6 linked regions of the Homo sapiens genome follow. The protein of the gene in region 5 purifies or fractionates together with the protein of the main gene of each other region. This does not show direct contact. Each region holds a gene or a part of one and is shown on either strand. Other genes may lie near its edges.

Region 1 (5,605 bases), on a different chromosome or scaffold from region 5:
AATACCAGCACTTTGGGAGGTTGAGGCAGGAAGATAATTTGAACACAGAAGTTCAAGACCAGCAACATAGGGAGACCCTGTCTCTACAATTTAAAAAAATAAAAAAGTCAGGGTATATCACTTAATAGAGAAGCTCAGTACTTAATGCTTAATTCTGGTTTTGTTTTGTTTGAAAGTGGAATTGTTAAATTATTAGCAGTATAGGAAAAAAAGACAAGTTAGTAGAAAAGTATTAGAAGTATAGTCTTATAAATGTTTTGAAATATTTTCTAGGGACATTTTCTTTTTCCCTGATACTTCTTTAACATAGCTGTCTATATGGTGATGTTATTACAAATGTTCCCTTACTTAGTTTTGTATTTGGTTTGTTCATTTTATTCAGATCTACAGAAGTCATTTCTAGTACTTTCTAAAAACTTATAATGCTCTTTGTTTTTTAGGCTGTTAAAAGACATAATCTGACTAAAAGATGGCTTATGAAAATCGTCGATGAAAGAGTGAGTCAAAATTGTTCAAGTCTTAAGTTTTTTCTTCCTGTTTAATTCTTAAGCTAATTCTTCAAGAAGGACATTTTTTGACTGTATATTAATATTTTGGAGGAAGGAAACTTTTAGAGAATTATGCCATTTTATTCATACTTTACCCTTGCATGCTACCCCCCATACCCTCACATTGAGACAGACAAGCACCAAGGCAGAGGCATGTGTATGCACAACCACACTCCACTATTTTGGTTTTTTCAAAAGGAAATTTTCATACTTACATAAAAGTAGAGAGACTACTCTACATGTGTAGAGTATCTGGTGACATGTTAAAGAAAATCCCAGACATCTTATCATTTGATTTGTAAATACATATATATCTTAAAAAGATAAAGACAAAAAACATAGCCATGATATGATTATCATACCTTAAAAATTACTAATTATTCCTTAATATCATCAAATACTTGATTAGTCATACACATACCTTTAAATATACCCCAGTACTTGGATCGGTGTCTAAATAGTAGAGGGCATAAAGAAAGTCTGACAGTTCCAGTGAATGGAATCCTGTACTAAATTCTTAGAACTGAGTTCTAGGTCCAGCCAAGTCAGTGAATTGCTGTGTGACCTGGCCTAACATGTGTGACCTTTCTGATGCATTGTTAGGTCTGTGTTCCCCTTGGCCTGATATTAATTACATGCTGTTGTCATGGAAATATGTAAGTTTACTTAGTTTATTTAGATAGTTTGCTAACTATAGGCTGTAGCAATAACAAGAAGAAGCCAAAAAGATATATTAGCTAAGAAGACCTATTTTCAGGTGTCATCTTTTCTGTTTTACAAGGTAAAGAAAATTAGGGAACTCAAGACAGAGATACCATTTTAGTTTAATGAAAAATAACACTTGGCTTTTGAAGGGGGGGATATTTAAAAGTAAAGAACTGTGAACAAACATTGATCTATAGATTCAGTGCAATCCTTTTCAAAATTCCAGCTTTCTTTTTTGCAGAAATTGACAAACTGGTCCTAAAATTCATATGGAAATGCAAGGGACCCAGAATAGCCAGAATAATCTTAACAAAGAAGAACAAAGTTAGAGGGCTCACATTTCCTGATTTCAGAACTTAACTACAAAGCTACAGTAATCAAACTGTGTGTTACTGATAAAGGGTAGACATATAGATCAATGGAATAGAAATGAGAGTCCAGATATAAACCCATATATTTATAGTCAATTGAGTGACAAGGGTGTCAAGACACTTCACTGGGGAAAGAACAGTCTTTGCAACAAATGGTGCTGGGACACTTGGATACCTCTTGCAAAAGAATAAGTTTTGACCCCTCCCTCACACCATATACAAAAATGAACTCAAACTAAATTAAAGACCTAGATGTAAGAGCTAAAACTGTGAAACTCTTAGGGGAAAGCATAGGTGTAAATCTTAATGACTTTTAGGTTAGGCAGTGGTTTCTTTTTTTTTTTTTTTTTGAGATGGAGTCTCGCTCTGTTGCCAGGCTGGAGTGCAGTGACACGATCTCGGCTCACTGCAATCTCCGCCTCCTGGGTTCAAGCAGTTCCCCTGCCTCAGCCTCCTGAGTAGCTGAGACTACAGGTGTGCGCCACCACACTCGGCTAATTTTTTTTTTTTGTATTTTAGTAGAGATGGGGTTTCACCATGTTGGCCAGGATGGTCTTGATCTCCTGACCTCGTGATCCACCCGCCTCAGCCTCCCGAAGTGCTGGGATTACAGGCTTGAGCCACCGCGCCCTAGGCAGTGGTTTTTTAGATGTGATACCAAAGGCACAAGCAAGAAAAGAAAAAATAGATAGATTGGACTAAAAGAAAAAAATTATTTGCCAGTTATATATCTGATAAGGGACAATTATCTAAAATATGCAAGAAACTCTTACAACTCAAGAATAAAAAAAAAATCCTAATTTAAAAATGGGGAAAGGATTTGAGTAGACATTTCTCCAGATAAGGTGTACAAATGACCAATAAGCATCTGAAAAGATGTTCAGCATCTTTTCATTAGAGAAATGCAAATTGAAACAAAGAAACATCACTTCACAGCTGTTGGGATGGCTGTGATAAAAAAGAAAAAAGATGCACGATAACAAGTATTGGTGAGAACAGGGAGATGTTAAAACCTTTCGTACATTGCTGGTGGGAATGTGAAATGGTGCAGCTGCTTTGGAAAAATAGTTTGGCAACTTTTTCTTCGAAGAGATAAACATAGGAGTTATCATAGACCCAGAAATTCTACCCCTAGGTTTATACCCAAGATAAATGAAAACATATGTCCACCCAGAACTTGTATATGAATGTTTGTAGCAACATTATTCATGAAAGCCCGAAAGTAGAAAGAACTCATAGTCTGTTAATGAGTTGTTAAACAAAATGTTGTATATCCATACAATGGAATATTATTCATAATTTATTCAACTAAAAAGAATAAAGTACCAATAGATGAAGCAAACAATATGCTAATTGAAAGAAGCCAGATACAAAAAGCTACATATTATACGATTCCATTTGTATGAAATGCCCAGAATAGACAAATCCATGAAGATGAAAAGTAGATTAGTGGTTTGCCAGGGCTGAGGAGGGGGGGAAATGGGAAGTGTCTGCTTAATGGATGCAACTTTTCTTTTGGGGGTCATTAAAATATTCTGGAATTAGATAGTAGTGATAGCTGCACAACTTTGTGTATATACTAAAAACCACTGAATTGTATTATTTGAAGGGATAAATTTTATGGTATGTTAATTATGTCTCAAAAAAAACCATAAAGGATGCATTTTTTTTCCTGGAATCATTGCTGATGTCATTTTCTTTTTTTTTTTTTTTTTTGAGACAGAGTCTCACTCTTGTCGCCCAGGCTGGAGTACAATGGCACGACCTTGGCTCACTACAACCTCCACCTCCCGGGTTCAAGTGATTCTCCTGCCTCAGCTTCCCGAGTAGCTGGGATTACAGGTGCCTACCACAATGCCCAGCTGACTTCTTTTGTATTTTTGGTACAGACAGGGTTTTACCATGTTGGCTAGGCTGGTCTTGAACTCCTGACCTCAGGTGATCTGCCCATCTCGGCCTCCCAAAGTGCTTGGATTACAGGCATGAGCCACCGCACCCAGCCTCTTTTTTTTTTTTTTAAACCCTGCATGTGGCATTTGATGCTGGTGTTAGTTTTTTCTGATTTTAAAGAGGGTGAAATAGGGGATAATATTTTGCCCTAATAATAGTCTTTGTAAAAGTGGCTAAGTGTTCTCGCTATTAGATTCTCATTTTTCTGTTTCTTGCATATAGTGTATCTAGGGAATCAACCCTGTTATTTTATTGAGCATGGTTTCTTTTTAGGGGATGAGGTGGGCACTGGTTTCTGTTTTCTTTTTCTAGGTACCTTTTCCTCATTGAGCATGTAGATTCAAGAGTCAAATATGTGGGTTCCCGTCCCCACCATTTATTTATTAACTGTGTGTCTTTGGACATGTTAATGTGTCCATGCCTCAGTTTCTTCATTTGTAAAATGGGAAAAGTATTAATTCCTTATCTCTTGGAGGGGGGGTTGTTTGGGTTAAGAAGATAATGTCTAAAGTGCCTACGTAATGTCTAAAGTGCCTATGTAAGAGCTCAGTAAAGTCAGTTTATTTTGATAACTTGGGCTTCAGATGAAATTTAAAAAAAATGCCATGTCCATGGTGATTTGTATATTGAGGTTATTCCTGATGTCTTATTTTGAGGTGGTGATTTCAAAGTATTGAATGTGTAGAACTTCAATATTGTAATGTTTTATCTTATTGTGTACTAAATAACATATACTGAATATTTTTATTCGTTATTCAGTTCTTTGGGGCAAAAAACAGCACCTTTTCTTTCTAAAATATTGACAGTTCAACAGACTTTATTTGCATTTTATTTGATGTAGGAAAAAAATCTGGATGACAAAGCATATCGTAATATCAAGGAACTGGAAAATTATGCTGAAAACACACAGAGCTCTCTTCTTTACTTAACACTAGAAATATTGGGTAAGTTGTTTTTCTGTTTCATACTTCTTTTTTCCAATAAAATACCTATGAGATTTCACTTTTTCATAATTTGGTAATCTAACCAGTTTAGCACTAAAGCCTTCCTTTATACTATCTGTAAAGGAACAGTTTTTTTTGTTATTATTATTAGCAAGAAGAAGAATTTATATCTCTTTCTTTGTAATGCAGAGTAATCCAAGACTCAGGCTCTCATACAACTACTTTACCTCATGGGAATGTTGAAATTAATAATCTGGTAATTGCAAGTGGCTTTACTTTTTTACTATAGCATCTCCTACAATTTGGAAGGCCTATAGCCTGACTCTTCCTTTCGTGTTAATAGTACTTATCCATGGAAAAAGAAAAGTAGAAGAAGTAAAACACATTTATTTTATTTTATTTTATTTTATTTTATTTATTTTATTTTATTTTATGATGGAGTCTCGCTTTGTCCCCAGGCTGGAGTGCAGTGGCTCAATCTCGGCTCACTGCAACCTCTGCCTCCCGGATTCAAGTGATTCTCCTGCCTCAGCCTCCTGAGTAGCTGGGACTACAGGGACGTGCCACCACGCCCAGCTAAATTTTGTACTTTTAGTAGAGACGAGGCCAGAATGGTCTCGATCTCTTGACCTCGTGATCTGCCCGCCTCGGCCTCCCAAAGTGCTGGGATTACAGGCGTGAGCCACAGTGCCTGGCCTAAAACTGCATTTATAAAAGTTTTTGAGATTTTTCTTTCTCTGCTTTTTTAAAAACAAAATTTTGATGGTAGGATTTCTTCTCTGACTTTGTTGCCAGTTAGTGAGGTCTTATTGAAATAAGGAAATTATTTGGGCCAAGGACAATACCATCTCATTTGAAGAAGGTAATATATATCTCTATACCTCCCTAAAAGAATAATACAAGTCCCCATTGCATCTCCCAGGCCTATTCTGGCCCACAGCTCTGGTGACATGTTTGCCATCACAATGAAAGGAGGGAGCAAAGAGTAGAATGTTTGTTAAGCATATTCTTAAAATGAGATCATATGGAAATTGCACAGAGGAGAAGAAATGGAAGACTTGTAAAGTTTTTCCATGATAGCCGATTA
Region 2 (3,500 bases), on a different chromosome or scaffold from region 5:
TTGTTTGGGGTATCCTAGGATACATAGTTGTTTTTCCACCAACCCACACATCCTCTATATTCCTAATAAAGCCTTTGGAATCTGCTGGGCTTTTTAAGGCTCTCACCACTCTCTTTCTATGACTTCACCGTATCATTAAAAATCTAAAGTTATTTAGCATAATTTAATAGTATTAGCAAGATTTGTAACCGTATCCAAGGATATGAACTTGTTTGTTGTAACAACCACTTGAGGCAGTCCAAAAGGCCCTTCAAAGAAAGAAACATGCCATGTCAAATTTTCAGTAGTTTTATTGAAAAATGCCTCTTTTGTTTCAGAAATAAATAATATAAGGCAGTGAAATTCACAATCTGCAGTTAAAATATAAAAGCAGCAATTCTATGTTCATAGTCTTGCAAATGTTTTCCAACTACTTTTGATAACTAAGAAATATTATATTCTGAAAAAAGTTCATACTAAATATACAACACAAACATGCAATTCCCTCTCTGCAGAATAATCTGCAATTTGGTATAAATGTTAGTGTGTCTAAAACAAGGAGGTTTAAGGCAATATGGAACTGTATCCCGTTGATGCACTAACTTCATCTACATGGCTTAAGGTTTGTGGTTGTTAAAGAGATGTATACGAGCATTCTATGCCCCGGCGTATAACAGAGATAGAAGAGGAAGATAAGTAATTGCAATGGAGTTGACGTTTCCCTCCTTTTTGGTTTTAGGAGGGGAATTATTTGAATCGTGGTGTAATTGAATTGAAAATAAGTATAGCAAAAGATAAACTGCCCGCTCGAAATACACAGCAGCTCTGGGTTCCAGGACTTAACTGCTTAACCTAAGAGTTTCACTGAGGCTGCCCGCTGTGCTAACTAAAGGCACACGGCATGTTCTCTCTTTGCAGCTTTTGTTAACAAAGTATTTTGCAAGCATTTCAAGGGCAAAGGCAAAAATGTCTACAGACTGCGTGCTTGGAGCTAGGCTTCCTGCAGAAACAAGGTTCTCTACAATCAGAAAGGGTACTCCTGGATGAGCAACGCTGGAAGAAACACCTCAGAAAAGACGTACACTGCTCTATCTGACCTGTAAATGAGAATTTCAACACCTCCCCCAAGCCTCGCGGCGCGGCGCGTGATCTCTGGTTCACTGCCCGGGTCCGTGGGGCAGGGCGCGCCGCCAGCGCCGGTGGGGCTCAGGAGGCTCCTCTGCAGGCTCGTCTGCGCCGTAGTCCTCGTATTCCGCTGTCCGCTCGGGCTCCACCGGCACGATGAAGGGCTCGCGCTCAGGCAGGTAGGCCCCGCCCTCGGGCACGTAAGGCTCTGTCCGATTCAACATTACAATTATGGCATGATTTGGAAGGCACACACACACACACACAGCAAAAGCTAAATCATCACCCGCGGTGATGGCACTCCAGTCTTAATCTCATAACTATAAATAGATAAGTTACAATGTCCCAATTATTTCCAGATAATTTGGTGATAATCAAATAATGAAATGGCACTTTCTTAAAAAAAAAAACCTTCAAAAATCCAGCAGTAAACACAATCATTGCACAAATACTTGGGAAGGGTCAGAGACTGGGCCAAAGAACTGTAAACGCAGTAACTAAGTAGGATTTTCGCAAATCCCCAAGTAACTGTTTATGCCTTCAAACTCCTCAATTCAAAGAACAACTTGGAAAGATGAGGAGGTGAGGGGAAGTTTCATTGGCTCCTAGAAACTGAACTCGGGGGGTGAAAAGCAACTATCACCAGGTAATATACAGTACATGACATCTTCTGTGGCTGTACCTCACACAAACTGAGTTACAGCTGGTGGGTGAGGAACACCAGTGACTACAGCAAAACAGGAAGAAAAGGTGATTTTAAACTTTGGTTTGAAAATTGCAGTTACAAAACCCAAATGAGAGGACACGGACAAAAAAGTAACAAAAAGACAGATGCCCTGAATCAGACACATCGCTAACAAGCAAGAGATGAGGAGATTCCATTTGGTGTTATTCCGGCATAGAGCAAGCGGCAGGCTTTGATGCAGAAGCTTATTGTAGAATTGTTAAGTGATTTTAGTCGACAGGATCACATACAAATCATTTACAAGCCACAATTAGTTTATTATTTACATAAGACATTTCTCTTTAACCAGGTTAATTGTTTTTCTTAAAATGGCATAGACTCCTCTGGTTAGTAGTTTTATTATGCACCTCTTTCAAAACTGAGGCTCCTCATGGCTGTGTGTTGGAACTTTTTTAAAATAATGTTTTTCTACATTATTACTGAAATGCATCAGGATTATAAACTGACACCACTGCTTTTGTCTCATTCAAGTTAGTAAAAAGAGTCTCCACCCTCCTTTGTGATGTCGACCCGGTTCGTTAACCATTATCTGTGGTGAGATTTCCATACAGACTCATTTCCTAATAAGCACGTGCGCAAACATCTCAGAAACAGGATTTTCATGTATTCAAACTGTAAGCAGCACTGGCGACTTAGAAAATGTGTTAGCCGGAACCTGAAACAGGTCAAAGATGATAGTTTTTAAAAGTTGAATGACTAAGTAAAAAATATAAATACACATCCATCTACGTATGTAATGGTTAAAGTATATATATATATATATATATATATCCATATATTTTTAGTTATTCTCACATCCCATAAGGAGGTGGTAATTTAAATTTATAAAGAATTAAATTGCAATTTTTTGAATGGGTTGCATGGAAATATACATTAAGATTTGTTATTACTTTTGGTCATATGTAATTATGCATATAAATATATAGATATATAGATATTTAGATATTCAACTACTCATGCACTATTTGAAAGTAGCAAATCATATCAAACAGCAGTATAATTTTTTAAATTTGCAAGATGCTTGAGGGTGCAGTAATGAAATGGTCGCCATTGACCACAGCATGACTATCTTATTTCCAGATTGGCATATCTACCCAGTCCTCACATCCCACAAAATCAAGTATAGGAGACTTCTGCCCTCTACAATTGTCAAACACTAGAATTTCATTAAAAATCCTTTAAAAACAATTATTAAGTCCCAGATTTTATAAATATTAATTCCATGGCTAGTATGGGACAGTTAACTATGTTCAGTTGTCTACACCATATTATTACATAGTTTACCCATAAATTAGATTCCCAAAACAATTTTTAAATACATATTCTTGGCATTTTACAGTTGTATTTAACAAATCCCTGTTCCCAATCTTGGGGAAAAGAAAAAAAAAAAGTCAATTACTAGCATGCTTTGAAGTCCCAAGAGAAGTAAGGGGAGGTTTATGATGTGATTTGGTAAATGCAGAAACATGGGGAAAAAAGAAAATAATTCAATCCTAACAGTGAAATAATGTTGTGTGCTATGATAGCAAACACTATTATTATATAATCAGAACTGAAAGAGTTGTTATCTTCAAGACATCTTCAAATCAGCCTTCCTTCAATCCTAAGGAACTTCATTTCCGTAAAGTTCTTTACTTCAGGTGAGTTGGGG
Region 3 (5,605 bases), on a different chromosome or scaffold from region 5:
ATGACCCAGAAAAGGAGAAAGAAAGGTATCAAACATGAATTTTACTTCATTATTCACCCAATTCAACTAGGGTAATAGATGAGTTACATACATGAAATATGCATTAATTACATATTTCTGGTAAATTGAGCTCCACATCAGGGATCCGAAGGCATGGAGAAGAGCTATTAACAAAATATGTTTTTTTTTTTAAATACTAAAGTATAATAGTTACATAGAAGAAATGTACATATGCAAGTAAATAGCTAAATGAAATATCACAAAGTGATCATACCTGTGATAGCAGCAAGAAATAAGATATCATCAGCAGACCAGTAGCCCCCTCATTCTCCCTCATAAGCTACAGTCTGCTTTGGAGCTATTTCTTTTGGAGAAATAAATCTTTCATTATTCATTTTTTTCATCAAGCCGGCAGTCCTTTTGTCAGTCTACAAATACTTACTGAGCACCTGCTATTTTTCCAGGCATTATTTATTTACTTATTTATTTATTTATTTATTTTCTGAGAGGGAGTCTTGCTCTTTCGCCCAGGCCGGAGTGCAGTGGCGCGATCTCGGCTCACTGCAAGCTCCGCCTCCGCAGTTCACGCCATTCTCCTGCCTCAGCCTCCCGAGTAGCTGGGACTACAGGTGCCCGCCACCACGCTAATTTTTTGTATTTTTAGTAGAGACGGGGTTTCACTGTGTTAGCCAGGATGGTCTCGATCTCCTGACCTCGTGATCCGCCCGCCTCGGCCTCCCAAAGTGCTGGGATTATAGGCGTGAGCCACCGCGCCCGGCCTCCAGGCATTATTTACGTATGCTAGGTTAATAGCCATAAACAAAACAGATAGCGCTCACTACATGAAGTTCATAGTATATTGGAAAAGCAGATACAATAAATAATATGAATAAATGAAAAAATAATGCCAAGGAGGAAATAAGGCAGAAAAAAATGGTACAGTAAATTCTGAGATGGGGAGGGGAGGGGATACAATTTTAAGTGACATATACAGAGAATAACTCTCTCAGAAGGTGACATTTACATCAAGACCTAAGGGTATTGATTCTGTAGGTATATCTGAGGAGAACATATTCCAGAGAGAAAACATAGCAAAGCGTTTAGTGTTGTTGAAATAGAGCTACCTCAGCTGTAGAAGAGGAAGTCAGGAAGCTAATGGGAGGCCATGTTATAAAGGGTTTTGTAGACAATTTTAAAGACTTTGCCTAATATTCTGAATGAAGGTTCTGAGAAGACTAATATGATTTGATTTATGTTTTAAAGGAATAACTTTGCCTGATACCTATTGAAAACACTGCAGGGAGGCAAGGGCTGGACAGCTAGTTAGCTATTGCAGTTGTCTACAGAAGAGATGATGCTGGTTTATACCATGTTAGTAGTGGTGGAGCTCTTGAGAGGTGGTAAGATACTGGGTCTGTTTTGAAGGTGGAGTCAACAGAATTTTTTGAGTTGATGTACTATGTTAAAAAAATGAAGAGAGAGAGAGAGTAAGGAACATTGTAGTACCTTTTGAACATTATAGCACCAGTTACCTGAAAAAATACAATTGATATACCTGGTTGAGTCTAACCTTTGCCAGGGTTTCATATAAGTTACTTATCTAAATTCTCTGTGAATATTTGTACCAATATGGAACTCACCACAATCTAAAGCAATTCATTTAGGTGTTTGAATCATTTATCAAAACAAAGGAACAAGTACACAAATACTGCTTGACTCCTCCAAAATGAGTATTAGCAGATATAATACTATTAAATTTTCTATGTCGTCTTTGTATCTGTTTTCAGTAAGTAGTTTTCAAGGAATTTATTAATTTCATCTATGTTGTCAAATTTTTTGGCATGTAGTTATTTATAACATTTCTAAATTATTCTTTTAGTATCTACAGCTCATATAGTGATGACCTGTTATCTCTAATATTGGTAATATATGTTTTCTTGACTCTGGTCAATTTTGCAAATAGCTTATCAACTTATTCTTTTCAAGCAGCTAACTTTTGGCTTTGTTCTATTTTCTATTTCATCAATTTCTCCTCTTTATTACTTATTTTAAAAAATTTTCTATGCTCATCATTGGCTAGCTCCTTCAGATGAAAGTTTAGATCATCCATTTTAGAACCTCTTTCTTTTCTAATATATGTATTAAAGTTATAATTTTCCCCCAAATTACTGCTTTGGCTGCTGGGATTTGATAGGTTGTATTTTCTTTGTGATTCATTTCATTTCTAAATTCTATGATTACTTTGAGTCATGAGTTATTTAGAACTCATCCTTTTACTTATAAATATATTTCTTATAAATATTATATAGTTGATTCTTTTTGTTCTTCCAGTTGGATAATTTCTGTCTTTTAACTGGAGTACTTACTTCTTAATATTCTATGTAATTACTGATACCATTGGATTTAAGTCTTCCATCATCCTATTTGCTTTTGAATACTTTTTTTATATTTTGGCTCTACTTTTTGCCTTTTTAAAAAACTAATCAAGGTCTTGGAATTATCATTAATTATTAAACTCATACTTCCAAAACACTACGAAGAGCAAATATGTTTCTTCTTTTACATGGAAAATATACATATGTTTTTTACCGTGGAAAACATACTAACAACTAAAATTTACTGAACACTTAGTATGTGACAGATACTGCGTTAAGCATGAACTTACATGCATTATCTGTTTTAATCCCTTCAAGCAGTAATATAAAGTAAGGACTACTATTATTTATGATTTTCTGGTGAGAAAATTAAGGCTGAGAAAAGTTAGATAAGTTACTTCTCTAGTTAGTGGTAGAGCTAGGACTCAAAAACTCATGCAATTTATGAGTATTTACCTCTGAGTCTTTCCTTTCTAGGCTGTATATAACCAATACCTTCACTTAAAAAGGCGAATATTATTTCTGGCATGCCTATCATTCTAGATTTCTTCTTATGGGCAGGTAATTGTGTCACATATTATAAAGGATATTTGCTTTCTTATTGCTTTGCTACTCCTTGTTTCTTTGTTTACTTACCTTGTCAAGTTAAAAATTGCCAAATACAGGAAGTTAAATCCACCTCATATGGTGCAAAATCAATCTTTGAGTTTGAATAACATATATCACACTCCTTTTACAACCATTTATTCAAGTTGGATTAAGGAACTCAAGAGGTTTTCTTAAGCCCACCCCTCTTCTTGAATGCCATAAAGTACGTCTGCTTTATTTTTTGCTTCTTCAGGATTCTGAGATGTGCAAAGACTACCGAGTATTGCCCAGGATAGGTTATCTTTGTCCAAAGGATTTAAAGCCTGTCTGTGGTGACGATGGCCAAACCTACAACAATCCTTGCATGCTCTGTCATGAAAACCTGTAAGTATTCAAGTTGCCCCATCATATCTTCCAGTTTAGAATTTCTCAGCTAGAGTGTTAACCCATAGTAATGCACTGATATAAATTCGAAATGTGTTGCAAGTAATTTATTCATCATAGAAGTTAAAAATTCAAAATTTGTGAATTATCTTTCTTATATGTAAAATAGAAAAGATTTAAGGCTATTCCTTTGGTAAATTGCTTACCTACATTGTTATATGCTCTACTGAGAAGAAGAGAAAGAAAAAAAATAGTGGAGTTACAATTGCAGAATATTGGTATAATCCTGTGTACAGTCATGGGAGTGTGAACATCATTCATTCTGTGTGTAGTGGAGAAAAACAGTAGAGAACTACTGCTATATAACCCAGCCCAGTGTATTATATCTAAAAGGTCCTGTGACTATAATATAGCTACATATTCCCCATTTCTTTAACCCTGCCTCTTGAAAGAAGTAGTACCTTGCAAAAGGAAAGTGCACTGTACAAAAGAAAGCCCAATAAATAAATAGCTGATCTGATGTCTGCTCTCATATTTATGACTATCTGGGTATCTGGAGGCATATTATTTCATGATTCTGAATCTCACTCCCTTCATTGGAGAAATGGAGACAGTTCTCTGAGCTGCTGACTTCACAGATGATTGAAAAGAACTGCTAGATATGAAAATATTTTTATCTTAAGTTAAATACAAGGGATTCATTTTAATACTCTTATTATTGGCTTTAGTTTTGTTGTTGCTACTCTGCTCAAATGCTGTCTGAATTTTAAAATAATTTTTAAATAATTTCCCCTTGTCTCTATATGCATCCCTTCCCTTCTCCTGGCCACCATTTGGCCAGCTTTCAAGGAGAGAATGGTGACAAACCTTGGTTTTCCCATCTCACCTGACCCCAGACCTACATTGTAGTACTACTTTATCCTTCTTAGGACACTATAAGCAAGGCCCAGAACATGAGGATAGGACTCCCTGATATCCTGCTTTTTAATCCTGGAAAAATATTTAAAAGAATTCATCTTTTAGGTAAGGTATGGTAGATATAGGTAAGGTATGGTAGGTATGGTATGGTAGGTATACTTCATCTATAGGTAAGGTATGGTAGATAAGGCACTTTCAGATTTCAGTCACTGAATCCCTGCAACCTGCTATGGAATGTTATTATCTTTATTGTTCAGAAGGTTAATCTGAGGCTCAGAGAGTCCAGGTAATTTGTTTAAAGTTACAAAGCTAGGGAGTAAATCAGACAGGATTTTGACCTTATTGATTTGGATCTAAATACAGTTTTCTTTTTTCTCCACTAAACTACTGTTATTTCTAAGACAGTAGTTCCTTAAATTGTCAAAGACCAAAGATTCCTTAGATAATATGAAGAAAGTTACTCCTTTCAAGAAAATTTAAAAAAATGTGATATGAACAATCCACACACATAATATTCATAGGCTCGTGGAGTACTTGAAATTCATCTGTAGACCTTATAGGTTTTTAAGAATTAAGAAATTCCCGTTTAAGGAATAAATATAACTGTCCAGGAATTCCATTACTATATATACCTTATCTCCAGCCCAGAAATCCTTTAATTCCTCTTTCTTATAAATGTCAGGGCCTAAATTATCCATATAATTTTCTTCAACATTTTCATCAACTTTATAGACCCATAACAAGTGATCTTTTTAAGGGAAATTTAGCATAAGAAACTGAAATGATGAAAATATTAAGAAAGCATACCTCAGGATAGTTTGTTTAGCTAAGGGAGCTGGGAGTAGATATTATAAAGAAGGATCAGGTTATCTGAGGCAAAAGGAAACAATATTCATTTCTAAGGTTTTAGAGAAAGTTATATGAGAGCAATTTCAATTTAAGCAATGCTAAAAGACAAATTGCACTGCCTTGATAGATAATGAGTTTCCCATTACCAGAGGCAAACAAGTACATGTCTGATTCATAATATTTCTCCAGTGAGAGGCATTAAAATTCGTACTCCTTAAGATTCATTCCAACTACAAAACTCAGACTGTATCATTTGTGTCTTGTTATATTTTTCCCCAGGTCGTATTATTGGTACTCAATATAGTCAAACATCTCTCTGGGATCTGATTCTCGCATCTATAAATGCGAGATCACCTTTAGACCAGATGATCTCCAAGTTTATTTCCAACATTCTCTATGAATATATCAGTGAATGAAATGTGACAGGATAGGTCCAGGGCTAGGGGATGAATCTGGAGCAGAAGAGAGACAGCCTGGATGATACCTACTGA
Region 4 (5,605 bases), on a different chromosome or scaffold from region 5:
AGCCTGTCCAACGTGGTGAAACCCCGTCTCTACTAAAAATACAAAAATTAGCCAGGTGTAGTGGTGCACACCTGTAATCCCAGCTACTTGGGAGGCTGAGGCAGGAGAATCGCTTGAGCCTGGGAAGTGGAGACTATGGTGAGTAGATTTTGCGCCACTGCACTCCAGCCTGGGTGACAGAGCGAGACTCTGTCTCAAAAAAAGAGAGAGAGAGAGAGAGAGAGAGAGAGAGAGAGAGAGAGAGAGAGAGAGAGAATAGGCCTGGCCTGGTGGCTCATCCCTGTAATCCCAGCACTTTGGGAGGCCAAGGTGGGCAGATCACCTGAGGTCAGGAGTTCAAGACCAGCCTGGCCAAGATGCCGAAACCCCATCTCTACTAAAAATACAAAATTAGCAGGTCATGGTGGCACATGCCTGTAATCCCAGCTACTCGGGAGGCTGAGGCAGGAGAATCGCTTGAACTCGGGAGGTGGAGGTTGTGGTGAGCTGAGATCGCGCCATTGCACTCCAGCCTGGGCAGCAGAGTGAGACTCTATCTCAAAAAAAAAAAAATTATACTGAAAGTCCACATCATTTACTTTTTTTTTTCTCTCTCTTTTTTTGAGACAGTCTTGCTCTGTGACCCCAGCTGGAGTGCAATGGCACAATCTTGGCTCATTGCAACCTCTGCCTCCTGGGTTCAAGCAATTCTCGTGTCTCAGCCTCCGAAGTAGCTGGGATTACAGGCACGTGCCACTGTGCCTGGCTAATTTTTATATTTTTAGTAGAGATGGGGTTTCACCATGTTGGCCAGGCTGGTCTCAAACTCCTGACCTCAGGTGATCCTTCCACCTTGGCCTCCTAAAGTGCTGGGATTACAGGTGTAAGCCACCATGCCCGGCCTTTGTTTTTTTTTTTTTTTTTGGTGGCATCTTGCTGTCATCCAGGCTGGAGTGCAGTGGTGTAATTATAGCTCACTGCAGCCTTCAACTCCTGGGCTGAAGTGATCCTCCTGCATCAGCCTCTCAAGTAGCTGGGACCATAGATTTGAGCCACCATGCTGTCTAATTAAAAACAATTTTTGTTTGTTTTTTTTAGAGATGGGGGGGGTCTCATTTTGCTGCCCAGGCTGGTCTCGAACTCCTGGCTTCAAGCAATCCTTTTGCCTTGGCCTGCGAAGTACTGGGATTACAGGCGTGAGCCATTGTACTCAGCCCAATCACTTGCATTTTTGAGGTGGGCTATAACCGAATGCTAAGGTTGTCAGGAGGGCCCAGGACATTCCAGATTGAGGATGGAACAGGTTGGGCAAAAGCACTGAAAAGTGAAAGTGGAAAGTATTTTAGGAGACTCCAATAACTCCTTGGTTTGAAGCAGTGTGCTATCATAATACAGCACTGGAAGATGAGTCAACAGTAACTTGATATCTGATTGTAGAAGGCCTTGAATGCCCAGGTGAAGATTCTGGACTGTAATCGAAATAGGGAGCCACTGAAGGTTCTAGAGCAGTGGAATTCTAGCAAAGGATGATTTATCTGATGTGGGTGTGGAGGGTTCTTTAAGTGGAGAAAATACCAGAGACAGGGATAACACTAAAAGGCTTGTATATTAGTTTGTGCCAGAAGTAATTCATTATTCATTTAATGTTCACTGTAACCCTGTGAGGTAAATATTATCTCCAGTATGTGGATAAGGTAACTGAAGTTTAGTGAGAAAAATTAATTTACCCAAGGTCACAGGGACACTCAGTGGTGGAGCTTGGGTTTAAAAGTAGGTCTGGCTGTTTCCAAAGCTCTGTTTTCTGTCCATTAAACATACTGAAGAGTTAAATATATGAGGGGTACATAGGACCAAGAAGAGGAGAGTGATAGTCATTCACGGGGTAGGACTCAGGACCAGGTGCATAATTTGCAGGGCTCGGTGCAAAAATGATTGAGAGTTTCAAGATAGTGACAACAGAGCATTAGCCTAAGCACAGGGCCCCTCTGAGAGCGGGGAACTTGTGACTTCACAGGACGCACACCCATGAAGCCAGCCCTTACATGGTTGGTTTTCCAATTACTATGGCAGTGTAACAAACCACCTCAAAATGTAATGGCTTAAAAGGATAATGGGCCCAGCATGGTAGCTCATGCCTATAATCCCAGCACTTTGGAAAGCCGAGGCAGGAGGATTGCTTGAGCCTGGGGGTTTCCAATCAGCCTGGGCAACATGTGAGACCCTGTCACACACACACACACACAAAAAGATAACGTTGATGTTGACTTTGCACATGAGTGCAGGCTGTGGAGACAAGCACATTTCTACTGCATTCAGTGTTGGCTGGGGCAGCTCAGAGGCTGGGGGTTAGAATTATCCGGAGCTTGGCTCTCTCCCCTGTCTGGTTGTTGGGCTGGGAAGATTTGAGCTGGAGGCTTCTCAGGCATCTGTTTCTAGGTGGGTTCTCCACACTCTCTCTTCCGTAGGGTGGTTTCGGGGAGACCAGGCTCCTTCCATGGTGGCTCAAGGTTCCAGAGGTGCACATCTGTGTGTCAAGTGAAGGGGAGAACCAGAACCAGGCATAAGCTAGGTCACTTTTATTACTTGGACTTGGAAGTCATGTAAGCACCATTTCAGCAACTCATTAGAAGCCAGTCACTAAGTCCAGATCATATACAAGGGGAGGCGAGTTAGACTCCAAGTTTTGTGGGAAGGAATGTCAAAGAATGTGTAGACAGGTTTTTAAAGCTACCACAGTGGCCTAATGAGTGAGAGGATGAGTGGATCTGAGGGGTGCTTCCCCTTTATGCCTGAACGGCTCCCCCCAGAGTCATCCTTTGGAGTTCACAGACATCCTCCTTTAAAAGGCATCTGAGGGCCGGGTGTGGTGGCTCACACCTATAATCCCAGCACTTTGGGAGGCTGAGGCAGGCGGATCACGAGGTCAAGAGATCGAGACCATCCTGGCCAACATGGTGAAACCCCGTCTCTACTAAAAATACAAAAATTAGCTGGGTGTGGTGGCGTGCACCTGTAGTCCCAGCTACTTGGGAGGCTGAGGCAGGAGAATTGGTTGAACCTGGGAGACGGAGGTTGCAGTGAGCCGAGATCACGCCACTGCACTCCAGCCTGGTGACAGAGCGAGACTCTGTCTCAAAAAAAAAAAAAAAAAAAAAAAGGCACCTGCTAGTATGTAAGAACACGTGAAGGCTGGATGATGAGTTTTGACAGCTCTGAGGGATTTAAATGACTCCAGTGCCTCCTGTCGGCCTGGGTCCTAGCAGTAAACAGATAGGGTGGAGAAAGCAATTTGAGAGGAGCCAGGTGGGAAGGGGGTGTGTGAAGCCACTGTGGGGCCGTGCAGATGAACTCTTGGAAGGAAAAAGGCCTTATTGTAGATCAGGCACTGCACTTTACACATCTTGTCTCATTAATTAAACCCTCACCACAGCCCTGCCAGAGGTGCTCTCGTCAGCCCCGCATTACAGATGGAGAACCTGAAGCACAGAAAAGCCGCACAGCTAGTGGGCTGCGGAGCCCAGATTTGAACACAGGCAGCCTGAGGTCAGGGCCCATACCCCCCAACTTTGGGCCGTACCACCTATTCCATAGCAATTCTGTGTTTTTCTTGCGTTAACATTTGTATCTTTTCCTACTTACATATTTGCAAGCTTTAGGGGGAAAAAGAAAAAGTAATTCGACCTTAAGAGATCAGCTTAGTGATAAGAGAGTGCCTCACATATGGCAGGTGTTCAATAAATATTAAAGAAATGAATATTTATCCTTATTGTACAAACTTATATCTAACTTGCCTTCCCTACGGATGCTTGCCCTCTGGTCTTTGTCATGTGGCAGCTGTTGGTGCTTTCCATGGTATTCTCTGTGGCACCCAGGCCAGGGAGCCAGAACTTCTGGCATTCTCCTGGTCAACTGGCTCTCTCAGCCATTAGGCACCCCTCCTTCCACCTTAGAGACTGGAACCCTCAGCTGACCTCAGCCCCCTTCTTCAAACCAGCAGCACTCTAGATACAAAGAACTGGGAGAGGCAGCCCTCTCTCTGCCCATTCACCCAGACCCTCCTTCAGCTGCTGCTTCCTGACCTCCCAGGCACCCTGTAGGCAGGGCCTTCTCTCTAACCTTCCTGGAAACAAGGCACTCATCTCTGCGGCTCCTGGACCCCATTCAGTACCCATAGGGTTTCTAGGGAGATTTCTGTCTTCTACTTCCTGCTGAGGCCCAGGTGGTGGAACCCCACCCTTCTGGGGACCCGGGAAGCCTCCACACACTAGCGGCAATTCCTTCAGTTCTCTGTCACTTGTCTCCTCGAACGTGATTTGTGGTATATTTCATGACACAGAAGTTTAAACTTTTGATATACTCAAATCTGCTCATTTTTTCCTTTTAAACTTTCTGAGTTGATGTATTATATTTAATGGTTCTATCACATAATATGGTTTGTTCAGCCATTGCCTAAATGTTAGACATTCAGGTTGCTTACATTTGTTTGACTAATATTAATAGCACAGCTATACATATCTTTGTAATTTCTTTTCCATTTATATTCTTTTATGTAATCCCCAAGACGATATTGTTGGGTCAGAGTTTTAGGAAATTAATACACATTTCCAGACTGCTCTCTAAAAACATTTCAGGTTTATAGTTCCAGAAGCAGTAAAGGTTAATACTCACTGATTCAGTTTCCTTAGTGATTGTAAGACTATCAAAGCTTATTTCTTTTTGCATCAGTTTTGCTATTAAGTTTTTCTAGGAAATTGGCCATATCCTCTAAGTTTTCAAATCTCTGCTGTTTCTTTAGTTATGTCCCTATTTTCCTTCTTAATATTGTTTGTGCCTTTTCTATTTGTTCTTTTAGTCTTTGGTTTATTTTTTTCTGAAATGGGGTCTCACTCTGTCACCCAGGCTGGAGTACAGCAGCACAATCACAGCTCACTGCAGTCTCAACCTCCTGGGCTCAAGTCATCCTTCACCTCAGCTTCCCAAGTAGCTAGGACTACAGGCGTGCACCACCACACCCAGCTAATTTTTTAAAATTAATTTTTTGTAGAGATGGGGGTCTCACTATGTTGCCCAAGCTGGCCTCCAACTTCTGGGCTCAAGCAATCCTTCTGCCTCAGCCTCCCAAAGTGCTGGTGAGAGGTGACAGTGTGTGCCCTCGCTCGTTCTCGGCGCCTCCTCGGCCTTGGCGCCCACTCTGGCCGCGCTTGAGGAGCCCTTCAGCCCACCGTTGCACTGTGGGAGCCCCTTTCTGTACTGGCCAAGGCCGGAGCCGGCTCCTTCAGCTTGCAGGGAGGTGTGTAGGGAGAGGCGCGAGCGCGAACCGGGGCTGCGCGCGGCGCTTGCCGGCCAGCGCGAGTTCCGGGTGGGCGTGGGCTCGGGGGCCCAGCACTCGGAGCTGCCGGCCGGCCCCGCCGGCCCCGGGCAGTGAGGGGCTTAGCACCTGGGCCAGCAGCTGCTGTGCTCTACTTCTCGCCGGGCCTCAGCTGCCTCCCCGCGGGGCAGGGCTCGAGACCTGCAGCCCGCCATGCCTGAGCCTCCCCACTGCCGTGGGCTCCTGCACGGCCCAAGCCTCCCAACGAGCGCCACCCCCTGCTCCACGGCGCCCTGTCCCATCGACCACCCAAGGGCT
Region 5 (5,605 bases):
CCACCAAAACCAGTCAGGCATGGCGGCGCAAGCCTGCAATCGCAGGCACTGGGCAGGCTGAGTCAGGAGAATCAGGCAGGGAGGTTGCAGTGAGCCGAGATGGCAGCAGTACAGTCCAGCTTCGGCTCAACATGAGAGGGAGACCGTGGAAAGAGAGGGAGAGGGAGGGGGAGGGGGAGAGGGAGAGGGAGTTTTTTTTTTAATGTTTAAAAAACAAAGAGAGCCTTTGATAAATACTTCTTTTGTAGGCTGGATTCTGACAAGTTCTGCCACTAAAGTGAACATAAATACCTTGGACATTCTGTTTTCTGTCAAAACAACCCATAGCCTGGAAACACGTCTTTCTGCAAATTAAATACAACCAATTTAGTCCCCAGGTTAAGGATCCTGATTTGTTGCCCCAGAAAGGAAGTTTTCTAACTCAGAAACCTAAAAGCCAGATCCTACTGGGGATCCATTAGCTCTGGGAGGTCCTCACTGGCAGTGTACCTGGCCACAGTGTGGTGGCATAAGCCTGGACTTAGGATCTAGAAACCTGATCCTAAAAATTGTACAACTAGATGTGGGTGAGCTGAGACCAAACCTGAGGTCTCAGGAGATGCTGTGAAGACAGTGCCCACATTTGGTTTTGCCCGTTGCCCAGCACATAGTGAGCACTCCATAATAAATATTGGTTCACTGAAATTTGTGTTTTTGGTATCCTCAACTAAAACTGGAAAGGTTGGGCTGCCATCCACTTCCAGTGCTCTGTGCTTCTTTTTACCATCTGCTCTTTCTTGTTTCAGTTCCTTTCTTTATTGGATCTGAGCTAAATTTACTTCCTGCTTCTCCCCTTTAAAAACCATAGAAGTCCAAAGAAACTGAACTTGCCTGTGATCTTGGCACCTTCAGCAGCCAAAGCATAACCTAGTTGCCATATGAACTTTGTTCCATTTCCCTGTCCATAATGATTCTCTGTAGTACTTCACAAAGACCCAGGCAACCCTACTCCTAGCTTCACAACAAAGGCTTGAGATCAGGAGGAAAACAAAGTGTTCCCCCAATAGTATATACAGCAAGAGATCCTTACAGTTAGGCTGCAGAAGAATTGGAGTGTGTGTGTGTGTGTGTGTGTGTGTGTGTGTGTGTGCGCGCGCGCGCGCGCGCGCACATGTGTGTGTGTTTGCCTGCCTGCCTATCAGCCTCTCCACATTCCCAGCTCTCAGCTCTGGCTGTTTTGTGTCATTGAATGTTGGAATATTAAGGGATCTTAGATCTTCTGAGACATTAAATTACTTTTTCCAAAGTGACAGAGAATTCAAATTTCTGGCTTTTAATAAAACGCCCTTTCTGCTCATTTGATGTGGGGGGTGTCTTTGTTTGTTTGGGCTGCTATAACAAAATATCTGAGATTGGGTAATTAATAAATAATAAGAATTTAATTCTCACAGTTCTGGAGGCTGGGAAGTACAAGATTGAGGTGCAAGCAGATTTGATGTCTGGTGAGGGCCTGGTCTCTAACTTCCAAGATGGCACCTTGCATGTGGCATCCTCACATGGCAGAAGGCAGAAGGGCCAAAGGGCCAAATGCTGTAGGAAGACTGTTTTATTCACTTCTTAACCTCATCCACAAGGGAGGAGTCCTCATGACCTAATCACCTCCTAAAGGCCTCACCTCTTAATACTTTTGCATTGTGGATTAAGTATCAACATGAATTTTGGAGGGATCACAAACATTGAAACTATAGAGGGTGTCTCTTTCTTCACTGAATAGAAGAGATGACCCTGGACCAGGATAGGCATGAAGGGCCATAGGCAACTGAGACAGGGTCAGTTGGCCAGAACTGTGACTGCCTGTGCCCTGATGGGGTAGAAGCACCATCTCTGGTGGTGGAGAGTCCCCTTACAAAATGGCTCTGTGTGTGTGTGTGCATGTATGTGTGTGTGTGTGTCTGTGTGTCGATATCCATAACTGCACAAACATTCTCTTTTGGGTCTGTTTCAGCAATGCAAACCTCACAAGAGGCCTGTGTGTGGCAGTAATGGCAAGACCTACCTCAACCACTGTGAACTGCATCGAGATGCCTGCCTCACTGGATCCAAAATCCAGGTTGATTACGATGGACACTGCAAAGGTAAGGTGTGCTCTCACCACTGCAAGGCAGCTTTAGCCACGGGGAGCCAAGGAACAGAGCAGTGTGGCCTGGCTGACCACATGGTCTTTCCTCCACGACCACAGCCTCTCAAAGCTGTGGAAAGCGCCCAGTTGGTTGGAGTTGCATCCTCTTGTCACTTATGAGCCTGCTGGGTTTGCCCTGGATGGCCCAGGCCTCTGCCCAGGGTTTGCTATATCAGATCCCCATGGGGGTTTTCAGCACTGTCTGCAGCTGGATAGTAGATAGGGTGGACCCCATCAGTAAATCAGTAACAATAAGAAAGTTCCTTAAATGAATTATGTACCTTTTTAGAAAGTAGGTAAGTTTCACTTTTCCCATGCTTTTTAATTTGGGCACCTCTCAGTATTGTTTCCTCTATTTTGCACTGAAACCACTGCCATTAGAATAAGAAGGAAGAAGTCCCACACTTGTTGCTAATTAGATACCAGCCCCCTGCCAAGCCATAGCCCTGCCCAGCCCCTCTCAGCCTTGCCCTTCCTTGAAGAAACAAGAAGCTGTTTCCCAGGTGATTGTCTCCACTCCATTCCCTGTCCAGAATGATTCTCCATTTGAATTCTCAAAATCCCAGTGACCCCTCAATGCAACAGGAGGAGGTATGAGGCCAGAAGGGTAACTCAGTGGCCCTAAATTGTCAGACAAAGCAGGAGACAGAAGATCCTCATACCTGGGCCCTAGAAGAAGGAAAGGAAGGGAAAGGATTCAAGACAAAATGATGAAAAGGTTACAAACATTCCCCTACATGTAGAGCAGCTGTAATCCTAGAAATACAGAAAAATTTTCTTTTTTCCTTCACTTCGCATTACACGTTTTCTCTTTTTGTCTTGCAGAGAAGAAATCCGTAAGTCCATCTGCCAGCCCAGGTGAGTGCCTATTTTTTCTACTGTGTGCATCTCAGGGAGGACATTCTTTTCATGATAGAAATTTTGTGTTCCACAATCCCTGCCAAGCTCATAAGATCTTCTATGCATCAGAATTGTGTCCCAGAACTGGCCACTCCTCAACACAGCTCAGAAAAGCTGCAAAACTACATTTGTGTATGTGTTTGCCAATTGAAGCAGCTGGTTGGGTCAGAATGTTGGCTGTGTTTTCCCATTTTTCCTGAGTAGTGATTGAACTGCATAAACAGGAAAGCCACTGAGTTCATTTTTCAACATCCTATAAGACATGCTCGTGTCATGGGACCAGCAAATAGAAGGCACAACTCTTTTTGAAAGGGGATAACTGGAAATGCCAGTAAGACTTCTGTGGTTTTCTATTAGTGATCACTAAAATTTTATCATGATTTATAGTTACAGAGCTTTTTTGCACATACTTTCCTTAGATTCTCACGGTAGCCTTTGTGAAGTAGATCTTATTGTAATTACCATATAGATGAGGAAATTGAGGCTCAAAGAGGCTAAGTGAGTTTTCTATATCACACAGCTAGTAATTGGCAGACTGGGGAAGAACTCCCAGATTTTCATTCCCCTGGCCCAGTGCCCTTTTCACCCACAGCATGTGTTGTCTTCCAGGAATTCTCTTTTGCCAAAGCTTTCTCTCCTCTGCTTCCCCATCCACTCAACTCTCAGCACCCCCTGTTATTTCCAGTGGACAACAGCTGTCCAGAGCAGGGCTTCGACGTAGCCCTCACTGGCCTTCACATTCTGTTGTTCATAATAAAGGATGATGCAGGTGGTATACAGTTGTAAGTGGGGGGAAGTTTGGATGGACCTAGTTGGTGAGAAAGGGAGAAACTGGAGAAAATCAGAAATCTAGTAGCATAAAAACTGTAATATTCTCATTTATTCATGTATTATTTCAGCTCATCTTTGAGTCAAGAGAGCTGCTTTATTGATTTTTTCCCCTTCAGCTTCCTAAAGTTAATGAAAGTATCCTTTATTATTTTTCTGCTCTAGTTATTTCTCACATAAGCAGCAAAATCTCTCTGTTTCAATATTCTCAATCTTTACAAATATTTTAGAGATGGGTGCTTGAATCCTGGGCTAGACTTTTTCCAGTTGTGTACCCTGGATGTGCTAATCCTATCTCCCTGTGTTGCTGGGATGACATATGCAGAACCATGGGCACGGATGCTCCCACACAGTGGGTGCCAGATATCACTGGGGTCCTCCCCTGACTGCTCCAGCTGACATCCTCCACTTTCCTGCAGTTGTTTGCTATCAGTCCAACCGTGATGAGCTCCGACGTCGCATCATCCAGTGGCTGGAAGCTGAGATCATTCCAGATGGCTGGTTCTCTAAAGGCAGCAACTACAGTGAAATCCTAGACAAGTATTTTAAGGTAATCCAGAGGTAGGAGGAAGACTATTCAGGCCCATAGAAAGGGAAGCTTCCTCCTCCCATTGCCCGATCACACCTTCCCAGACCACAGGAAATGTAAACCTGCACAGACACCCTGAGTTTCCTCATCATAGATCATTCATGAAGCTGTGAAAGTTGCCTTCTGACCAGCTTGATCAGTGGGAGTAAGCAGTGGAGTCTTTGGGATCTAACACACATGTGCTGCTGCCTTCAGGCAGTGAAAGCCACAAAGGTCTTGGAGAACCTGTCAGTTAGGGCCAAGCTCTGTCCCCTACTCGCCATGACACCTTATGGATCTGGCTGTTAATACAAAATTCCCTCTGATTGCACCCAGACCTGGACCACTTTGGCCTCTTTCCTGCCTAGTTTGACATTTCTCTAAGTCATTAACTTGACTGCCAATGGCTTGGAGAGAGTCTTCATATGAGAAGAATCAATGGACTGGCATTTCATGGGTCCAGAGATTGTTCCTGAACTTAGATATTGCTGTTCCCAATCATAATTAGTTGAAGAGACAGAGTGTTCCACTTGGGAGCAGGAGAGATGCTATTTTCACAAAGAGAAATGAAGGAAGCTATAATATTTAGTGATGGCTCGGGTTATCATGCCATGCAGATCTTTCACAGAACTTGAGAGTTAGAAGAAGCAATTAAGGGCATTCTTACAGCTGATTGACAAGAACAGACACACACACAGGTACATCACACTCAGAATATCACACTCAGAAGCACAGAGAAGGACACACTTAAACTCAAAACATGCCAGACACGCACACACACACCACATACAGAGACTCACATGCCACACAGAGACACATCCTACATGCAGACACATTCAGATACCCACATTTCCATGCAAGCACCAAAGCCCTCTTCACTAGGTAGATGCCCCAGCCATCTACTCCCTCACATGCTTCCAGGGCCCAACCCAGCCAGGACTCAGGAGCAACTTCAGACACATGAAGGACTTTTCTTGGCAGCTCTGAGGCCACCTAATGTGGCCAATGCCAGTCTAGTCTGTGGATTTCTCTTTCTGACACTATAGAACCCGCAGATGAAGAAATACTGGGTTGGCTTCAAATGGATATTTGGTCATTTAAGACTTCACTTGTGTCATTTTTACATAGAGATTTCTCTCCTCTATGGCAGA
Region 6 (5,605 bases), on a different chromosome or scaffold from region 5:
TGCCATTAATTTCCATAACAAATGGAATCCCTTTTTACATAAGACTAAAGGTCAATATGATGAAGAAGAGATGACTATGCAACAAGCTAAAAGAAGGCAAAAACGTGAATGGGTGAAATTTGCCAAACCCTGCAGAGAAGGAGAAGATAACTCAAAAAGAAACCCAATTGCCAAGGTAAGTTATATCAACAGGAGCGTATGAGTTTTTAGAATAAATGTATAAGGTGTAAATTAAAATAATACGGCAATTCCAAATAACAAAATGAAGACTGGGGAGTCCACAGAACAAGTGAACTGGTATCCTCAACAAAATAGTACAATAATAATAATAATGAGAGAAAGAGAGAAAGGAAGGTAGCTTCTAGGGTTATGAAAAAGAATTGAGACAAAGAATTGAGACATATTGACCAATTTTAATATAGAAGGCTTACTTGGATACAGAGTCTAGCAAACAAATAGGAAAAATAATGCATGTATAAGACAGAAATGGTTGGGAGCAAAATATGGATTGGTCATGTATTGATAACTGTTGAAGCTCAGTGATAGGATGTATCAGGTTTATTATACTATTCTCTTTCTTTCTTTCTTTCTTTCTTTCTCTTTCTTTCTTTCTTTCTTTCTTTCTTTCTTTCTTTCTTCTTTCTTTCTTTCTTTCTTTCTTTCTTTCTTTCTTTCTTTCTTTCTTTCTTTCTTTTTCTGAGATGGAGTCACTGTGCCTCCCAGGCTGGAGTGCTGTGGCGCGATCTCAGCTCACTGCAACCTCCTCCTCCCAGGTTCAAGCAATTCTCCTGCCTCAGCCTCCTGAGTAGCTGGGATTACAGGCGTGTGCCACCATGCCCGGCTAATTGTTTTTGTATTTTTAGTAGAGACGGGGTTTCACCATATTGGCCAGGCTGATCTCGAACTTCTGACCTCATGATCTGCCCACCTCGGCCTCCCAAAGTGCTTGGATTACAGGCATGAGCCACCACGCCCAGCCTGTTATACTGTTCTAACTTTACATATATTTCACATTTTTCATGTTAAAAAGCTTTAAAATTACAATAATAATAAGTAAATTATTTTAATACATATTTTAACCCTACCATACAATCTCTTTCCCTTTTTGTCTCTCCACTTCCCCCTATTTAAACTAAATAAATATCTTTTGTTTTTTAATGTTGTCAGGTAAAGAGGGAGCCTTCAGGAGTAGCCTTGTCAATATTAAATGACTTTGACTTTCTTTTAACATTTTAACACTATCATGTGGCCACAGTCTGAGCAAATATTCTAACACTAAAATGATTAGTGCACATCATTGGTTCAGGCTGGTTGTCAAAAACAACGGTTTGATTTTATTTCATATTCCTAGTATCTATCAAGGCAAAAAGTAAATGGCACAATGTCAAAAAGAGTGAATCGAATGAACAGATGACTTTAGACTATGGAAGTGGGGGTGGAGAGGGAAAGGCTTGAGTGATGGTCACCTCAACGTTTTTGGTATTTGGGGCTGTAGATTACTTCAGATTACCAAGCAACCCAGAAAATCACCTACCGAATCTCTGGAGTGGGAATCGATCAGCCGCCTTTTGGAATCTTTGTTGTTGACAAAAACACTGGAGATATTAACATAACAGCTATAGTCGACCGGGAGGAAACTCCAAGCTTCCTGGTAAGTTTGGGTCCTCAACATTGGGCTACCCTTCTCCTTGTATACCATCGCTTTAGAAAGTGACAGTTTTCTACTGGTAAATTTAGAGGAGAGTTCAGTACATGCATCAGTCCACCAGCAAATAACAATATTAGTCCCTCCACAGAGCCTCGCCTGAGGGAACACAGCAGAGGGTGCATGAGTGAGGGTTGAAATCTAGCACGCCAAGTGCTTCAGTTTGCCATGACACAGCATTAGCCTGGTGGAAGGGGCAACTTGCCCAGTTGGTCTGCCCAGAGCAGGCACCTTTTTCCACTTTGTCTACCCTTTGGGGAAACATTTCTTCTTTGCACAAAAGTGATGTCCATGCCAACAGAGGCCTTATTTATACAAGTTTTAATAGTATGAAAACTGATTGCAGAGTAATACTCCACATTTTCCCTCTGTTCCTAGATCACATGTCGGGCTCTAAATGCCCAAGGACTAGATGTAGAGAAACCACTTATACTAACGGTTAAAATTTTGGATATTAATGATAATCCTCCAGTATTTTCACAACAAATTTTCATGGGTGAAATTGAAGAAAATAGTGCCTCAAGTAAGTCTTTTACAGTACTTACCACTTTCAGTTTATCTACTTTCAAATATGAGTCCCACTACAATATGTCATTCTTATAAACTAATTTATGCTCTTAGTTTAATCAGTAGTTTTGAAAAATAAAATTCATTAAGATAAATCTGGGTCTTCCTTTCTAAAATGTGTATTTGAGCTAATTATTTACTATCACTGTATTTCTAGTTATAGTCTGGTTATCAGGTCAATAGTATCTTATTCTATATATACAATTTATATGAGCATTTGGCAGTCACAAAGCTAAACAGGCAGCCTTGGGTAGCCTGGATGCATCAGCTGGGCTCTTTCAGGTTATAAAGGACAGAGACACACTCACATTACTTGGATAATTTGTGGAAAGGGGAGAATTATGACAATCTATCAAGGGAGAAAATTGAGATAGAATATAGCCTCAATCTCAGCAAACGTAAGGCTTAGAGAGAATCGAAGAGTTTGTATGGAAGGAAGCACAGTTCTACCTGGTTGGGAGAGACAGAAAGAGGTATCACAAGTGATATACAATTTTTTGAACATACAGATGATTTTAGGATATTTAAAAATTAGCATCAATGTGAACTTGTTTGGAATATTTAAAGTAAACATAATGTTAATTGTTACATATTCTTTAATAAACGTTTTCCTGTATTCCTAGACTCACTGGTGATGATACTAAATGCCACAGATGCAGATGAACCAAACCACTTGAATTCTAAAATTGCCTTCAAAATTGTCTCTCAGGAACCAGCAGGCACACCCATGTTCCTCCTAAGCAGAAACACTGGGGAAGTCCGTACTTTGACCAATTCTCTTGACCGAGAGGTACAGCAAAGCACTTGGGGGAACATTCAAGATTAAAGGGTTTGATTATAAGAAAACCAAGAGAGGTGACTCCATTTTACCCGAAAATTAAAAAAGAAAAGAGGTTCTCAGTACTTAACTTGGCTAATCTAGGGAAATTGTTTGCATTTTTAAGTGTGATTCTGGTGAGGCGAGATGTGTACCGGGCACCTGCAGAATCAGTTGTACCCTGAACATACCAGTGGAAGTTAAATAGGGGCAATGAAAGAAGGCATTGACATAGACATACATGGACAAAGATTGAACTGCAGCTAATTCCTCATGTGATGGAGGAGAAGCAAGTGTCTTAGATGAAGGGAGAAATTTCTGTCTGGAATAAAGCCTTCTTTTATATCACACTTTTTCTCCTGACTTCTCTTAATTTTATCCCTGCTTCCAGAGCACTAAAGAATCTCCTTCTCCAATCCCCCTCATTACCTACCACCACCACCTTCTATCTCCATTACCACAGGCTACCCGGTCAGACCCCATATTATTTTTGTACAAATGGCTTTCCCAATAGACTAACAGAGAAGCTCCATAAGTGAGCTTATTACTCCCACCCTACTCATTGCCCATTTTTGCTCTAAGGTTACGGTAGAGTACAGTCCTGCCATAAGAAGCTCACAAAACAGAAAACCTGCCCTAGCCCCTTAAAGACCTCCACCCAACCATCCAGAGTCCCACAAATGTCTTCTACATAAAATTGAATATTTCTACCTCCTTACCCATAGGAATCAAGTAGTTTCCATTTATAATTCTTTGGGATTAATTATTTTTCTTTATTTTTTATCCAAAATTAGCAAGCTAGCAGCTATCGTCTGGTTGTGAGTGGTGCAGACAAAGATGGAGAAGGACTATCAACTCAATGTGAATGTAATATTAAAGTGAAAGATGTCAACGATAACTTCCCAATGTTTAGAGACTCTCAGGTACACCCATTGCTCCTTAAAGAATCATTTAGATATATATTTAATACTTTGAAATCCTAATTCAGGACTTGCCTGTTTGTTGGCTTTTATTTAAGTTCTCTGCACTTATCTTTAAAGAAATATGCTTTTTAAAAAATATAAGAATTCAGTAATAAGAAGAAGGAAATACATAATTTGAGAAATAAGGATTACCATTTAGAAGAAACATAATCTCTCCATGTAAAACCTGTCATTAGGTCTTTAATTCTGCTTCTCGCCTTTTCAGTATTCAGCACGTATTGAAGAAAATATTTTAAGTTCTGAATTACTTCGATTTCAAGTAACAGATTTGGATGAAGAGTACACAGATAATTGGCTTGCAGTATATTTCTTTACCTCTGGGAATGAAGGAAATTGGTTTGAAATACAAACTGATCCTAGAACTAATGAAGGCATCCTGAAAGTGGTGAAGGTAAGGTCTGACTTCCCTTCATTGGTAAAAAAAATTCTGTATTAACCAAAATGATCATTTCTACAGATAAAATGTATTTATTTGTTAATATCACTTTATTACAGAAAACACATAAAAGTAGATTGAATTTTTTGTAATCCCCATAGAGCCGCTTTACCTGAGGACAACCTCTCTTAACATCTTGAACTCATTCCAAGCTATTGAACTTTCTATAGTAAACACAAACACACTAACATGCTATGGGAGTGATGATGTATACTTTAAGCACATGGTCATATATTATGGGTGTCCATACTTTAAGCACAAGAAAGCAAAACACATTTCTTGACTTAATCTCATTTGCAACAATCAGATTGAAGTTAGGACAAGATAAGAATGGATGGAATCACGTCTTGCCCATTCGTCAATCGGTTTTAAATGGATTAGCTACAGTCAATAGAGAATAAATGGCAACTCTTCCTACAAAATGGGAATTTATGAACAAAATCTGCAAAATAAAAGATAAATAATTGGGTAAAGCTTTTAATATGCTTGGCTATGACAGACTCCTTATCTGAGAGTGTGATCTGGGCCCCTTCCTTGGTACAGCACTTTGGTTTTTCGTTTGGTTGGTTGGTTTTTGTTTTTTGTTGTTGTGGTTGTGGTTGTGGTGTTTTTGTTTTTGTTTTTGTTTTTTTTGAGACAAGGTCTCACTCTGTCATCTAGGCAAGAGTGCAGTGATGTGATTTTGGCTCACTGCAGCCTTCACCTCCCAGGCCCCAGTGATCCTCCCACCTCAGCCTCCTGAGTAGCAGGGTCCGCATCATGTGCCATCATGCCCGGCTAATTTTTATAGTTTTAGTAGAAATAAGGTTTCACCATATTGACCAGGCTGGTCTCGAACTCCTGATCTCAAGTGATCCACCCGCCTTGGCCTCCCAAAGTACTGGGATTACAGGCATGAGCCATCGCATCTGGCCCTTGGTACAGCATTTTGGATTCTATGAGAGCGTCCTTATTTAAACCTTAAATCCAGTTGAGTGACAGACCATATAATCCTTTAACAAGGGGGCTGCTGAAAGCTGTACATGCAGTCCTTTGTTACTGTACTCTTTGGGACAAGTGCCACAGCCATCCCCACTTGTAAGGGTTTTGTTATAAAC

The links.
Region 1: the proteins of FSTL1 (region 5) and NDUFAF6 purify together in Homo sapiens (affinity purification with mass spectrometry; one large-scale study listed by BioGRID and IntAct). This does not show direct contact.
Region 2: the proteins of FSTL1 (region 5) and COL12A1 purify together in Homo sapiens (affinity purification with mass spectrometry; one large-scale study listed by BioGRID and IntAct). This does not show direct contact.
Region 3: the proteins of FSTL1 (region 5) and SPINK5 purify together in Homo sapiens (affinity purification with mass spectrometry; one large-scale study listed by BioGRID and IntAct). This does not show direct contact.
Region 4: the proteins of FSTL1 (region 5) and CGREF1 purify together in Homo sapiens (co-immunoprecipitation; one large-scale study listed by IntAct). This does not show direct contact.
Region 6: the proteins of FSTL1 (region 5) and DSG3 purify together in Homo sapiens (affinity purification with mass spectrometry; one large-scale study listed by BioGRID and IntAct). This does not show direct contact.

The regions. Positions count from the first base shown.
Region 1 is NC_000008.11:95,041,130-95,046,734, forward strand, and holds part of NDUFAF6 (NADH dehydrogenase (ubiquinone) complex I, assembly factor 6 isoform 1 precursor), read left to right. Parts: intron 1-440; coding exon 441-497; intron 498-3,347; exon of another isoform or gene 3,348-3,466; intron 3,467-4,415; coding exon 4,416-4,518; intron 4,519-5,605. UniProt on the Homo sapiens protein: Involved in the assembly of mitochondrial NADH:ubiquinone oxidoreductase complex (complex I) at early stages. May play a role in the biogenesis of complex I subunit MT-ND1.
Region 2 is NC_000006.12:75,084,054-75,087,553, forward strand, and holds the end of COL12A1 (collagen alpha-1(XII) chain long), read right to left. Parts: intron 2,505-3,500; coding exon 2,494-2,504; 3' UTR 1,313-2,493; coding exon of another isoform or gene 1,137-1,312; 3' UTR 273-1,136; downstream 1-272. UniProt on the Homo sapiens protein: Type XII collagen interacts with type I collagen-containing fibrils, the COL1 domain could be associated with the surface of the fibrils, and the COL2 and NC3 domains may be localized in the perifibrillar matrix.
Region 3 is NC_000005.10:148,128,043-148,133,647, forward strand, and holds part of SPINK5 (serine protease inhibitor Kazal-type 5 isoform b preproprotein), read left to right. Parts: intron 1-3,216; coding exon 3,217-3,347; intron 3,348-5,605. UniProt on the Homo sapiens protein: Serine protease inhibitor, probably important for the anti-inflammatory and/or antimicrobial protection of mucous epithelia.
Region 4 is NC_000002.12:27,111,522-27,117,126, reverse strand, and holds part of CGREF1 (cell growth regulator with EF hand domain protein 1 isoform a precursor), read left to right. Parts: exon of another isoform or gene 1-2,503; intron 2,504-5,605. UniProt on the Homo sapiens protein: Mediates cell-cell adhesion in a calcium-dependent manner. Able to inhibit growth in several cell lines.
Region 5 is NC_000003.12:120,408,363-120,413,967, reverse strand, and holds part of FSTL1 (follistatin-related protein 1 precursor), read left to right. Parts: intron 1-1,984; coding exon 1,985-2,114; intron 2,115-2,983; coding exon 2,984-3,016; intron 3,017-4,305; coding exon 4,306-4,436; intron 4,437-5,605.
Region 6 is NC_000018.10:31,456,950-31,462,554, forward strand, and holds part of DSG3 (desmoglein-3 preproprotein), read left to right. Parts: intron 1-43; coding exon 44-175; intron 176-1,495; coding exon 1,496-1,651; intron 1,652-2,083; coding exon 2,084-2,228; intron 2,229-2,895; coding exon 2,896-3,062; intron 3,063-3,883; coding exon 3,884-4,012; intron 4,013-4,277; coding exon 4,278-4,463; intron 4,464-5,605. UniProt on the Homo sapiens protein: A component of desmosome cell-cell junctions which are required for positive regulation of cellular adhesion. Required for adherens and desmosome junction assembly in response to mechanical force in keratinocytes.